2 linked regions of the Homo sapiens genome follow. The gene in region 1 interacts genetically with each later gene. Each region holds a gene or a part of one and is shown in the gene's direction. Other genes may lie near its edges.

Evidence for each region. Genes that interact genetically often act in the same process or in processes that back each other up.
Region 2: changes in CNIH1 (region 1) and PTAR1 are lethal when combined (synthetic lethality), as found in Homo sapiens cells (one study listed by BioGRID).

Annotation. Positions count from the first base shown.
Region 1 is NC_000014.9:54,438,354-54,445,653, reverse strand, and holds the start of CNIH1 (protein cornichon homolog 1), read left to right. Parts: upstream 1-4,279; 5' UTR 4,280-4,326; coding exon 4,327-4,407; intron 4,408-7,300. UniProt on the Homo sapiens protein: Involved in the selective transport and maturation of TGF-alpha family proteins.
Region 2 is NC_000009.12:69,722,012-69,729,040, reverse strand, and holds part of PTAR1 (protein prenyltransferase alpha subunit repeat-containing protein 1), read left to right. Parts: intron 1-5,410; coding exon 5,411-5,715; intron 5,716-7,029.

The DNA of each region.
Region 1 (7,300 bases):
AAAAATTTTTTTTGGAGACAAGGTTTCATTCTGTCACCCAGGCTGGGGTGCAGTGGCGCAACCATGGCTCACTGCAGCCTCCAACCCCATGGCCTCAAGCAATCCTTGTGCCTCAGCTTCCTGAAGTGTTGGAATTGCAGGTGTGTTCTACCTTGCCCAGCTTAATTTAAATTTAAATAGTCACATGATTAGTGGCTCCTGTATTAGACAGCACAAGCCTAAAGTTTACCTGTGTGCTCTGGTAATATGTGAAGGGGGCTTCATCCTACTGCAGCTTATATAACTGTGTGAATCAGTCAGCACTCCACCTGGCATAGAACAGGTGCTCAACAAACCTTTGTTGAAATACCTAAAATGCTACCCTTGAAGAAAGTTGGTGGGGAACCTGGGTTTTATGTAACCGCTGTAGGGGTTGAGGCAGGCAAAATTTCTCTTACAAATTTCCTTTCTCCTCAGGTGAAATAGGGGTAGCCCCTTCTAATTAAGGGTGGGTGCCTGGGAGACAGTTTCATTCTATGAGATAAGGTGCTAGCCTAGTCAGCAGAGAAGGAAAACACACATTTCAAGTGAAGCCGGAGAAAAACTTGTTGCCAAAAGGTAGGATTTCTTGGTATCTGGTGATGAAACATCATTTCCCAAGTTGTAGATGGGATTCATCTGGAAAAAGGGGGTTCGATTTCATGGTTTGGCTTGAGTAGTTCCCTGCAAACTCTCTCTCCCGAGCCCAGAAAGCTGCATCTGCCTTTCATTAGATTGTGAGTTCTCTTGCATAAATATTGCCTGATGCTGCGTTCTGCCGTGCCCGTGGCCTTAAGTACTGAATTAAATATCATTTGCCTCCTTCTTCGCTTTCACCAGGGCATCCAGTTAATCAAGTTCAGCTGAGCTTGTCTCCCAACTACTATCAAGCATGTTTACCCCTTTCCTTCCCACCTTCCACTGCTCTAGTTCAGATCCATAGCAACTTTTGCTTGGACCATTGCCGTGGGACCCGATTTCCAATCTAACACTCCTCTAATCAGGGTCATTGTGCACAGTTGGGCAGTTTGTGCACTGCACATAGGTGCACGACCAGGGTTGGTGGGGCTGAAGTATAGCTTGTGTTCCTACACTCTGGGGTGGGCCTCTGTCCATCTGCAGAAAGTAACTTTACAAAAAATGTTATTGGATTTTATTATTTTAAAAAAGAAATAGAGATGAGATTGTGCCTGGAATTGGTGGGTTCTTGGTCTGACTTCAAGAATGAAGCCACGGACCCTCGTGGTGAGTGTTACAGCTCTTAAGATGGCGCGTCTGGCGTTTGTTCCTTCTGATGTTCGGAAGCGTTCGGAGTTTTTTCCCTCCTGGTGGTTCGTGGTCTCGCTGGCTCAGAAGTGAAGCTACAGACCTTCGCAGCGTTACAGCTGTTAAGGCGGTGCGTCTGGAATTGTTCGTTTCTCCCTGTGGGCTCGTGGTCTTGCTGGGTTCAGGAATGAAGCTGCAGACCTTTGTGGTGAGTGTGACAGCTCATAAAATCAGTGTGGAACCAAAGAGAGAGCAGTAGCAAGATTTATTGCAAGGAGCGAAAAAACAAATCTCCCACACCATGGAACTGGACTTCAGCGGGTTGTCCCCGCTGGCTCCGGCAGCCTGCTTTTATTCTCTTATCTGGCCCCACCCATGTCCTGCTGATTGGTAGAGCCGAGTGGTCTGTTTTGACAGGGCGCTGATTGGTGCGTTTACAATCCCTGAGCTAGACACAAAGGTTTTCCATGTCCCCACCAGATTACTTAGATACAGAGCATCCACACAAAGGTTCTCTAAGGCCCCACCAGAGTAGCTAGATACAGAGTGTCCATTGGTGCACTCACAAACCCTGAGCTAGATACAGGGTGCTGATTGGTGTGTTTACAAACCTTGAGCTAGATACAGAGTGCTGATTGGTGTATTTACAATCCCCGAGCTAGACATAAAGGTTCTCCAAGGCCTCACCAGAGAAGCTAGATACAGAGTGCACATTGGTGCATTCCCAAACCCTGAGCTAGACACAGGGTGCTGATTGGTGTGTTTACAAACCTTGAGCTAGATACAGAGTGCTGATTGGTATATTTACAATCCCTGAGCTAGGCATAAAGGTTCTCCACTTCCCCCCGAGACTCAGGAGCCCAGCTGGCTTCACCCAGCATATCCCACACCGGGGCTGCAGGTGGAGCTGCCTGCCAGTCCCGCGCCGTGCACCCGCACTCCTCAGCCCTTGGGTGGTCGATGGGACTGGGCGCCATGGAGCAGGGGGTGGCGCTCGCTGGGGAGGCTTGGGCTGCACAGGAGCCCATGGAGGGGGTGGGAGGCTCAGGCATGGCGGGCTGCAGGTCCCGAGCCCTGCCCCGCGGGAAGGCAGCTAAGGCCCGGTGAGAAATCGAGTGCAGCGCCGGTGGGCTGGCACTGCTGGGGGACCCAGTACACCCTCTGCAGCCACTGGCCCGGGTGCTAAGCCCCTCATCACCCGGGGCCGGCAGGGGCGGCCGGCTGCTCCGAGTGAGGGTCCCGCCAATCCCACGCCAACCCGGAACTCCAGCTGGCCCGCAAGCACCCTGCGCAGTCCCGGTTACCCCTCGCGCCTCTTCCTCTACACCTCCCTGCAAGCTGAGGGAGCTGGCTCTGGCCTTGGCCAGCCCAGAAAGGGGCTCCCATAGTGCAGCGGTGGGCTGAAGGGCTCCTCAAGTGCCGCCAAAGTGGCAGCCCAGGCAGAGGAGGCGCCGAGAGTGAGGGAGGGCTGTGAGGACTGCCAGCACGCTGTCACCTCTCAAGATCTCATTACCTTGTCCAGGCTGGTCTTGAATTCCTGAGCTCAAGTGATCCTCCTGTCTTGGCCTCCCAAAGTGTTAGGATTACAGGCATGAGCTGCTGTGCCTGGCCAAAAGTAACTTGATAATTTGCACACAGGTGCCACATAATCCTGGTGGTACAGGTTGTACTGTCCAATACACTAGCCACATTTTACTTAAAGTGATGTGAAATTTAAAGTTCAGTTCCTCAGTCATGCTAGACAATTTACAAGTGCCCAATGGCCACATGTGGCTAGTGGCTACTGTATTGGGCAATGTTTAGGTATCGAAAATTTTCACCATCACAGAAGGTTCTATTGCACAGCACTGGACAGACCCTGCTTCTAAACTATTCTACGCAATTTGCTAGGTGAACGATCTTTAATGCAAATCTAAACATGGTCTTCTTTTGCTCAAAAGCCTTCAATGATTTTCTCTTCCATCAGCAGCAATCAGTTAATAGAGTTTTTTTCTTTTAAAAATGGTTGTAATGGAAAGTTAAATCAATTTTGAATCAATTTTGTGTGTTAAGACCAGCATTAAAAACAAGTAGCAAAAGAGAGAAGGGAAAGTACTTATGGATCATTAGTACAGTTTTGTGAAATTTTTGTTTTGGTCATATCTATATTTCTTTGCCTCTATAACTAGATTTCCACCTCTTCATAACTTGATGTCTGTATGATATTCCACTGGGTTGCAATGAAAAAAATCTTTCTAGTTGTGTGTGGTGAGCAAAAAATTTGGGCTTATGGGATAAGAAGTCTGAGCTCCGTAATGAAGCATTATAAGGCCCTCTATGATCTGATCCCTTGCTAATTCATTTCTAAGTCTCACCACTGTCTTGCACTTAGGTTCCATTAATACAGAATTGCTGCTGGTTTCACCTGAGACACGAAGCTTTATTTTTCTTTTCTTTTTTCCATCTCTGTTGCGTTTCCTCATTCTGAACTGTTTCCTTGGACTGCCAGTTCTACCTTCTTTTTGCCTGGAGAACTTATCATCATCTAAGGCCAACTTAGGAAACACCTACAGCAGGAATCCTGCCTAAATGCTCCAGGGCGGGCTGGCTGTCCTTCTTTGACCTTTCAGAGCATCCCACACACATCCGTTTACGGGGTTATAATAACGTAATTATTTATTTAGGTGTTCATTTCCGGCACTATACTAAGTTCTTTCAGTGCAGGTACTATCTTATTCATCTTTGTATCTGAAGCGAGAAGCGCGGTACCTGTAACAAACTAGGCATTCATTCAATAAATATTTGTTGAAAGAATAAACGCAAGAAGGAAGGAAAAATCAATCAACAACTGTGCGGACAATGTCAGTGCAACGCAGACTCCGGCCATCAGAGGGCGCCGGGGCGGCTGGGCTGGTGCGCAGGCGCGCTGAGAGGGCTGGCGCCGCGGCGGTAGCGGTGGCGGTCGCGGCTGTGGCCGGGGGAAGTGAATGGTTTTACCCAGAGGGCCCTGCGCCGCCTTTCTCCGCTGGCAACGGCGCCGCTCCCCGCTCCTCCTCCCCAGCCATGGCGTTCACGTTCGCGGCCTTCTGCTACATGCTGGCGCTGCTGCTCACTGCCGCGCTCATCTTCTTCGCCATTTGGCACGTGAGTAGCTGGGGCTGGGGAAAGGAGGGCGAGGCGGCAACACAGCCTCTTTTCGCCCCGGGCCCGCGGTCCGGGCCGCCACGGCCGCCGGGGCTTTGCGCGTCGGGGATGCGGCCCGGCTGGCACGGGCCGCGCGGCGAGGGGTCTGGGGGCCGCGGGTACTGGAGGAGCCGGGGCGCGCAGTCGCCAGGTGGACGCGCCCGCGTTGCCTCGGCACAGGCCGCGCGCACCGCTACTCCTCCCCTACTGGATGGGGCGGCCGCGGTCCAGGCGGGCGCCCGCGGTTCCGCGCTGCGTTCGCACCGACCTCTGCCGGCCCGCGGCCCTGCATTCCCGGGGAGGATGTCGACAGCGCGGTGGGACGGCCGTAGTGTGAATGAAGTTTTCCGAATTTTTGTTAATACAGATTGACTTTCTTTTAGGGTTTCCACAGAACTGTGGCCAAAATGTAACCTACTTAGGGTGAATTTCCAACTCTACTTTTCAGCACTTGTTCGGTGCTCTTCAAATCAAATCACTTTTTTTCTCTTTTTCCAGATTGTTGTTTCCTGGTGAACTTTGATGCAAGTTCAATTGATTACTTTGTTGATTGCATGTGCGCGTTTCCCCCCCAAATCATACTTTGACCGCTGGAGTTTCAACAGGCAGCTTTCCAAGCCACCCTTATATTCAGGATTGCTTGATTTAGTAGAGGGAGTTTTCATTTGATTTTGAGATGCTCAGAAACCTTAAGCTTTTCTGGGGCAGTATTTATTTCTGTTACACACATCATCATCACTATTGCAGGGTGGAAGCACAGCCTTACTGGTCCCTCTAAGGAAAAAGTCGTAAGTTCCCTGTGACATAGTTCTACAGAGATAAGAATTTCTGTTGCTTTAGCACAAAATTAAAAGCCTTGAGAGCCTTCTGGAAATCATTCATTAAAAATTTATCTCATACTTGCTTCTCTTTTCCCCATATTCCAGTGCCTTCTGGAATGTTGCTTTTAATTTGAATGACCGCGTTCACTCTTACGTAGATTTTAAGTCAGGTTTCATCATGCCAGTAACAAGGATTTCTATGAAACATACGGAGGGGCAGAATGATTAAACAGCAGCAGCGTCTTGTGCAAAAAAGTCTCGAAAGTGGAAGCATATCACAAATCCATTCCTTTTTGCTAAGCAGTGTGATTATGTTTACAATTATTTTAGGACCTGACTGCTTATTGTAATCAGGAATACTTATGTAGGCTATTAACTGTGTCGGAAATAACTGCTACCTCAGAATGCTTGTCAGTAGGAGCAGTAATTTGAAGAGCATCTTCAGCCCTGCTTTGATGGAAGAACAATACCTAAGATAATTTGGGATACAGACTAGCTCAACCTTAGTAGGCCTCTGATGAAAATGTGTGGTTCCATGGCCGGGCGCGGTGGCTCACTCCTGTAATCCCAGCACTTTGGGAGGCCGAGGCGGGAGGATCACGAGGTCAGGAGTTCGAGACCAGCCTGGCCAACATGGTGAAACCCCGTCTCTACTAAAAATACAAAAAAATTAGCCGGGCATGGTGGTGGGCGCCTGTAATCCCAGCTACTCGGGAGGCTGAGGCGGAGGAGAATCACTTGAACCCAGGAGGCAGAGGTTGCAGTGAGCCGCGATGGCGCCACTGCACTCCATCCTGGGCGGAGACTCCGTCTCAAAAAAAAAACAAAAAAAAAGAAAGAAAGAAAGTGTGTGGTTCCATTCCATCTGTAGATGTAGCTTTAAGTCATTCTGCTTGATGGGTATTCCTTTTTTCTGGGATGATGGGGATTCTTAGAGTGGTGGGGTAGGCTTTTTCACATTTTTACGTTTTGAACCAGGTTGTGTTTGGCTTAAGGAAAACCTGAACCGCACTTTCAAAAAATGGGTAATTTCAGCTTAAACAAATGCGTGTCTGGGTGAAGTAAATAATTTTAAGTCGTGTTATACAATGAAAAAAAAATTATACCGCAGATTCGTGGAGAGCTTTTATGCTTAGGGATTTCTTCATTCAGAGAATTAGTATCCTTTTGGAAACAATTCTAAATAAATAGATAGTTTTAATTTTTCTATTACCCATATAACCTTATGTTTATCATCTTAGGTAGTATCTTAGTCCATTCCTTTATAGTGTTTATAGTGTTGCTATACAGGAATACGGGAGGCTGAGTAATTTACAAAGAAAAAAGAGGTTTATTTACCTCAGGATTCTGCTGACTATAAGACTGGGCATCTGGTGAAAGTCTCAGCCTGCTTCCACTCATGGTGGGGGAGTAGTGTGTGGAGATCCCATAGTGAGAGAAAGCAAAGGAAAAAGAGGGGGAGGTGCCAGGCGCTGTTTACAAGCCAGTTCTCTTGGGTCCTAATGGCAGGAGAACTCACTTATTCCCTCCAAGATGACACCAAACCATTCATGAGGGATCTGCTCCCATGACCCAAACACCTCCCGTTAGATCCCGCCTCCAACATTGGGGATCAGATTTCAACCTGAGATTTGGAGGAGTTAAACCAAACTCTAGCAGGTAGTTGAAGTATCTTTCAGAAGACTCATTTTACAATTTTTAAATTACATTCCAAAAATCTTATTTACATTAATCACTGTATTAGAGAATGTTTTTTATGCTGATGATTATATCTGTCAATTTAGTCCTAATTCATGTCATTGATGCTCTGTGGAGAATAGAGTCGGGAGCATAGATTGTTTGAAAAATTAAAAGCTTAAAAGTCATTCCTTAAAGATGTGTATTAAATTGGAAGGTATTCTGAATTGTGTACTTGGGCATCTTTAGGGATTTATCTGTTTTATTTTTGTTATACTTCTGTAGGAAATTTTGTGGGTGTCTTTGCTCAGCCACATAGCTGCAAAAAGATTTGAAAATCATTAAGAATATTCTCA
Region 2 (7,029 bases), on another chromosome or scaffold:
GCAGCCTAATATAATTTTTAATGTATTTATTAGCATTGAATGAGACAGCAAATACTTTAAAGTGTTTGAAACAGTGCTTGGCACATGGTAAATGCTGAACAGATAGTAATACATACACACAACAATGCTATAGATTTTTTTCTTGTATTTTTTATAAAAGCATATATTTGTTTTCTAGTCAGAAAAAGGTTAAAGAATAAAGATTGATTAAAAGTAGTATAGGGTGGAATTATGACACTAATTTTCTATTTTATGTTCTCTCTGATGTCTGCATGCTTAAATAAACATTTAAGTAAATTTTAAAATATTTTTATATTTGAGGGTAGTGTGGCAGGAAAGATTCACAGTCAGGCAGTTTATTACTACTGGCAAATTACAAGTTTCACATAAAAAAAGCACATATAGTCATTTCTCCAAAAAACCTACCCACACCACCAATAAGGACATGAAAAGATATTCACCATCTTTACTATTAGGGAAATGCAAAGCAAAACCACAGGGAGTGAGATACCACTTCACACCAAAATACGGACAATAACAAATGTTGGTTAGGATGTGGAGAAACTGAAACTCTTATTTATGGCTGGTAAGAATGTAAAATGGTACAGCCACTGTGGAAAGCAGTTTGGCATTTCCTCAAATAATTAAACATAGAATCACTATATATTAATAAAACTATAGTTAATATATATCATATTCTTGGAGAAAAACATGCATTACCATATATGACCCTGTAATTCTGCTCCTAGGTATATACCCAAGAGAAGTGAAAACACATTCCATACCAAATCTTGTATGAGAACATTAATAGCCATATTATTTATAATAGCCAAAAAATAATACCTCACCTGAGGAATGGAAAACAAAATGTGGCGTATCCATGCAATAGAACATTGGCCATAAAAAAGGAAGGAAATACTGATACATGCTATAACGTGGATGAACCTTGAAAACATGCTGATTGAAAGCAGTCAGATTCAAGGCCACATATTGTATGATTTCATTTATATAACATGTTCAGAATAGGCAAAGCAGGTTAGTGGGTGCCAGAGGCTGGGGAGGAGGGAATGGGATGTAACTTCTAATAGGAATGGGGTTTTGTGGGGGTGGTGAAAACATTAGAAATTAGATAAGAGCAATGGTTGCACAATTCTGTGAATATATTAAAAACCACTGATTTATTTTTTCACTTCAAAAATGATTCTAAAGTACATTAGAGAGAATAAAGCTTAAAGAATAGCTGAGGAATTGTTGGGAAAAACAATAAAGAACACTCTACCATTAGATACTTACATGTTTATTAATAAGACAGAGTAATTAAAATTGTGATGCTATTTCAAAAATAGACTCAGTAATGGAACAGAATATAAAGTCCAGAAACAAATTCCAATACATAATATGTACATATTTCATTAATGATGAATATGGCATTTCACATAATTAGAGAAAGGATTCCCTGTTCAATTTGTGATGCTGGTAAAATTTATTGACTTTTTAGAAAATAGAAAGTTAGGTGGTTTTTTTTTTTTAATCTTAAATACCAAATTGAACTTTAAATGGAATAAAAACCTATATGAAGAAAAGAGACTCACATTATGCTAAGTGAAATAAGCCAAGCGCAGAAGGATAAATATTGCATGGTGTCACTTGTAGGTGGACTCTAAACAAGTTGAACTCATGGAAATAGTAGAATGGTGATTGCAGGAGTAGGGGTTGTGGTGGGGAACAGGGAGTTGCTGGTTAAAGGGTACAAAGTTTCCGTTAGGATGAGTAAGTTCTGGAGGTCTAATGGTAGAACATGGTAATTACTGTTAATAATGTATACCCAAAGATTTCTAAGAGCGTTATCTTAAATGTTCTTACCACAAAAAATAAAATACTTATGTGAGGTGATAGATAAGTTAATTCACTTGATGGTGGTAATCATTTCACAGTGTATACATAAAAACAATATGTCGTACATCGTATATATATATGTGTGTGTATACGTGTGTGTGTGTGTGTGTGTGTGTGTATATACACAATTTTAATTTGTCATTTATACTTCTTCAATAGACCTGAGGGAGAAAAGAAAAAAAAGAATTTTACTTGACTCCCAATCTTTAAAAAAAAAAAAAGAATTTAAAAAATCAGTTGCAGTAATATATCGAAAATAATATTTATAACACATATGACAAATAGAGACTTAATATCTTTAATATGTAAAGACCTCTTACAAACTCGTAAGAAAAATAATGACTATCACAAATAGTAAATTAGATAATTCATAAAAGTAGAGAATTAGGCAAAATAGGCAGTTCATAAATGAAGAAGCAAAGGAAAAGTAATCACACAAGAAAAGATATTTAGGCTTAATGATAATTAAGGAAATGTAAATTAAAATGAAATGTGATTCTTATTAGTGAAGATTAAAGTATTGATGATGAATTTAGGAAATAAGCATTAACATGTACTTCCAATAGGAGTATAAATTATACAGTCTTTCTGCAGGACACTTTATATATCAAGAACTTTATAAAGTTTTTTTCTTTGTTCCAGCAAGTATATTTCTACAAATTTCTCCTAAATAATTAGATATGTACATAGATTTATTTATGAGTGTTACTTATACAAGAGTAGAAACAAACACAGGAATGGTTAAATTCTGTTAATCTTGAGGGTGAAATATTTTACGAGTTAAAAATTATAGAATAATATTTAATGCCATAGGAATGTATTTATAATTGAAGTAGAATAAAATTGGTACAAAAGAATATCCCAGATTTTTCTTAAAAATAAACTCTGTGCATGTGCATACATAGAAAAAAACCTGAAAGATTTGTTTTCTGCCAGAATGTTACAAGTAGTGATCTCTGGCCAACAAAATAATGGATGATTTTTGTTTGCTTTTTTATATTTTCCCATATTATTGGAATTTTCTATATTGATCATTTTGTATCACTTTTATAATCAGAAGAAAACCCAAATACTATTTTTAAAAGTTTAAAGGACCTATGGCATATGTATTTTTAGTAGTCTTTCATTTTTAGCACGTTATCCCTCTTTTTCATAGCCCTGCATTTGCAGTTTTCTTGTAGTTTATTTATTCACTTATTCATGTTTTCATATGGAAGTAGGAAAAGAAAGATATTTAACGTATATCATACGAAGGTCATTTATCCCATCAGTACTGTACATTAAAGCCATATCTTCATATAGTATCTTTAGATCACTTAAAAGTTAACTGGATCACTTAAAAGTAATTGCTGTCTTTTTTAAAAAAATCATTGCCTCTATCTTTATATCTTTTTATTCTAACAAGAGAATACCCTGAAATTCCAGTTAAAGTTTCTAATATGCATCTTTATATCTTAGGGAAAAGAATATAGTGGATTTTCTCTTTAAAAGCCTAAGAATTTTTTTAAGAAATTGATTTTGTTGAAAATATATATATATATTTTTTTTCTTTTTTGAGATGGAGTCTTGTTTTGTCGCCCAGGCTGGAGTATAGTGGAGCAATCTCGGCTCACTGCAACCTATACCTCCCAGGTTCGAGTTATTCTCCTGCCTCAGCCTCCCAAGTAGCTGGGACTACAGGCATGCACCACCACGCCCTGCAAATTTTTGTATTTTTAGTAGAGACAGGGTCTCACCATTTTGGCCAGGCTGGTCTCCAACTCCTGACCTCAGGTGATCCGTCCGCCCCAGCCTCCCAAAGTGCTGGGATTACAGGTATGAGCCACCACGCACAGCCAGAACATCTTTTATATGTGTGCTATTTTTGCCTCAAAATTAAATAATAAACTGCAATTTTATACATAGAAATATCCAGTTAGAAATAATCTAAATGTTTTCATATTATATAAGTTCATTTTAAATAAGTGGAGTACTCTTTTCAATCCATGTTAAGAAGCCATGCCAAAATAAAAAAGCTGCTGTATTATAGCCAGAATGTTCTACAGGTTTATTTTTCAAAAATGTAATAAATGTAAGATTGATTTTTATTTCAGGTAGGAGTTTATCTGGTGCTATTTTTCTTCACCTTTTAAAATCAAATAAAGATACTGTTTTCCATTTCTCAGATACTTGCCAGCTATAGCCTCTGGAATAAATTTAGGTGGCTATGAATAAACTCATTGGAACTTAAAGGAGATGTTTAAAACATATCACTGATACAACTTGACTATCTTGGCTGGAAGTAATCTTACTATTTGCCTTATTTATTAAATTGTTCATTCATTTCATAAAATATTTATGTATCCACTTTGATGTCAGTAGGTATAGGGGGATTGAAGTATCAGATAGGAATGAATAAATATCTTAAAGCCCTCACTCACTGAGTTTAATGAGAATGAAGAGATGCACTGAAATTCTTTAATAAATGTGATGGAATACATAAGTACTATGGGGGTTCAGCAAAAGGAAAGATTCCCGCGGAAGAAAAATGGTGTAAGAAATGGAAAAAAGATCATGGTACAGGAGAAGGCATTTGCCTGGGACCTTTGACAAACAGGTAAAGGTGTCATTCAGCATTATGCTGTCTGTATTGTTAACTGTTCACAAATGTATGTCTTTTTTCCTTAGCTGGTCTGAAAATCCTCTGACGGAACGTGGTAGGCACTTGATATACCTTTCACTGATTTATGTTTGCGACCTGTCCAAGACACTCTCAAATAAATTATTTTTGCATAGGTGCTGCTTTTTAAAAAATCATTTCATTTGAAATTCTTTAGTTTGCAAGATATTGGTATCACAAAGATTTAAACAATTTGCTGCTGAATTTTCAGTTATTTTAAAACCCATTTATTATTACTGTTAAGTAAGTTTGAGACAGTTAAAGTCACGAGCTCTTGAAAAAATCTTATTATTAGTGCATCATGTTTTTCTACTAATCCCTTATAATTAAGTAGTGAGCAAGACAGACACGGTCTCTGCCCTCATGACATTTATATTGAAGAACAAATAATTTCACTGAGCCTATTGTAGAGATAATAAGTTACATATTATACACATTTATTAAATGTAAAATAAAGTTTATATCAAAGTAATCTGAGTTTATATTTTTGCTTTTACGTCAGCATTACTTGTAAATGAATACCCTAATGCTCATCATTATTTTAGAATTTTATTTTCCTTCTCTGTGTGTACCAATCAGAATGTGAGTAGTCAAGGTCTAGGGAAAGGATGACAAATGAGTCCTTAAATTCTTTAGTCTTAAAAAAAAATCTATCACTTTTATATGGGAAAGAGAAAATTCGCATGTATTAAGCTTCCACTAAGTGAGAGCACTGTGCTAGACATTGTGTACAAAATATTGGTAAGAATGGTCTTGTCAAAAAAGGAACAAATCAAAGAGAAATCAGAGGCAATAATGGAGAAAGAAGAACCTTTGGGAACTCTTCTTCTTACTTCCCTTTTTTCTTCTTAAAAGATTCTTCTTGATGAACTATCTTCTACTAAACATTGGGCATCTATGCACGTTTCAGACCACAGTGGATTTCACTACCGCCAGTTTTTGCTTAAGTCTTTGATTAGCCAAACTGTGATAGACAGTTCTGTGATGGAGCAAAATCCTTTGAGAAGTGAGCCAGCCCTAGTTCCTCCAAAAGATGAAGAAGCAGCAGTTTCAACAGAAGAACCAAGGATTAATCTTCCCCATCTTCTAGAAGAAGAAGTTGAATTCAGCACTGATCTTATTGATTCCTACCCAGGACATGAAACCCTTTGGTGTCATAGGTAAGAAAAGGGAAAATCTATTTCCTACACAAAACTGCATGTCTTCATGAGAGCTGCAGAAAGTGTTAGTTACACCTGATTCCTGCCTGCTTGGGTAAACATGGTCATCTGATTGTGGAGCTTTGCCTGAGTGAATACAAGAGGTTTTGTGTTACCATATCATCGTCATCATCATCATCATCATCATTAATAAGAGATTCCTCATGTAGATCTCTGCCTGCAGCTTAGGATGGTGATATTCAACCTTGACTGTGCAACAGAATAACCTGTGTTAGTTCCAAAATAAAACAGAATCAGAAGTTTTTTTGACTCCTTCCTTGGAGATACTAATATTTAGCATATCTAGGATGGATTGCTGCCATCTCTCTTTTTTTTTTTTTTTTTTTGAGATAGAGTTTTGCTCTTCTTGCCCAGGCTGGAGTGCAATAGCGCGATCTCGGCTCACTGCAATCTCGGCCTCCAAGGTTCAAGCAATTCTCCTGCCTCAGCCTTCCAAGTAGGTGGGATTATAGGCACCCACCACCACACCGGGCTAATTTTTGTGTTTTTAGTAGAGACGGAATTTCACCATGTTGGCCAGGCTGGTCTCGAACTCCTGACCTCAGGTGATCTGCCTGCCTTGGCCTCCCAAAGTGCTGGGATTACAGGTGTGAGCCACCATGCCTGGCCCTTTTTTTTTTTTCCCCCCTAGAAAAAGCTCAACACATTGATGCACAGTCAGGATTGAGATTTGATTAGACCCCAAGAATAAGGTATGCTTTATCATTTTTCCAACCCTGATGGTCTGCAAATTAACTTACCTGAAGTATAATCTCTTGACACTTTTTGTTTAAAGTGTAAGAGAATTTCTCTTTGAGAGAGGGGAAAGTCTGGTAGCAAAGAGTGAAAAAGGGTTAGCAACCTATCAACTTCAGTTGTGAGTACATTTGACAGTATGTTGGACTGAAGTCACATATGTGACCCCTTCCCAGCTTCATTTCTTTTGGATCTTCCTTTATTTGGAGGCATCTTCATCTTCATAAATACAGATTCTACTTTAGGCCATAGCATTGTATTTGTAAATGAAAGACTTGCCTGTGCTAGGCAGGAAGGAGGTAGGCATTGTTTAAAATTGCCTATTTCTAAAGTTATTGAGATTTTCTTTCTTTCTCCAGTCTAGTCTGTCTTGCAGGTTATTTGAGGAGACCTGGTCAGCTGCTTTTCCTTACTAAATATATTCAGAACATAAAAGATTATCTCCCCTCTTTGGCACCTTCATTAGTAGAGAACATTCTTTTTCTCTTAAAACCAAGACACTTATTTCATGTTTTCAAG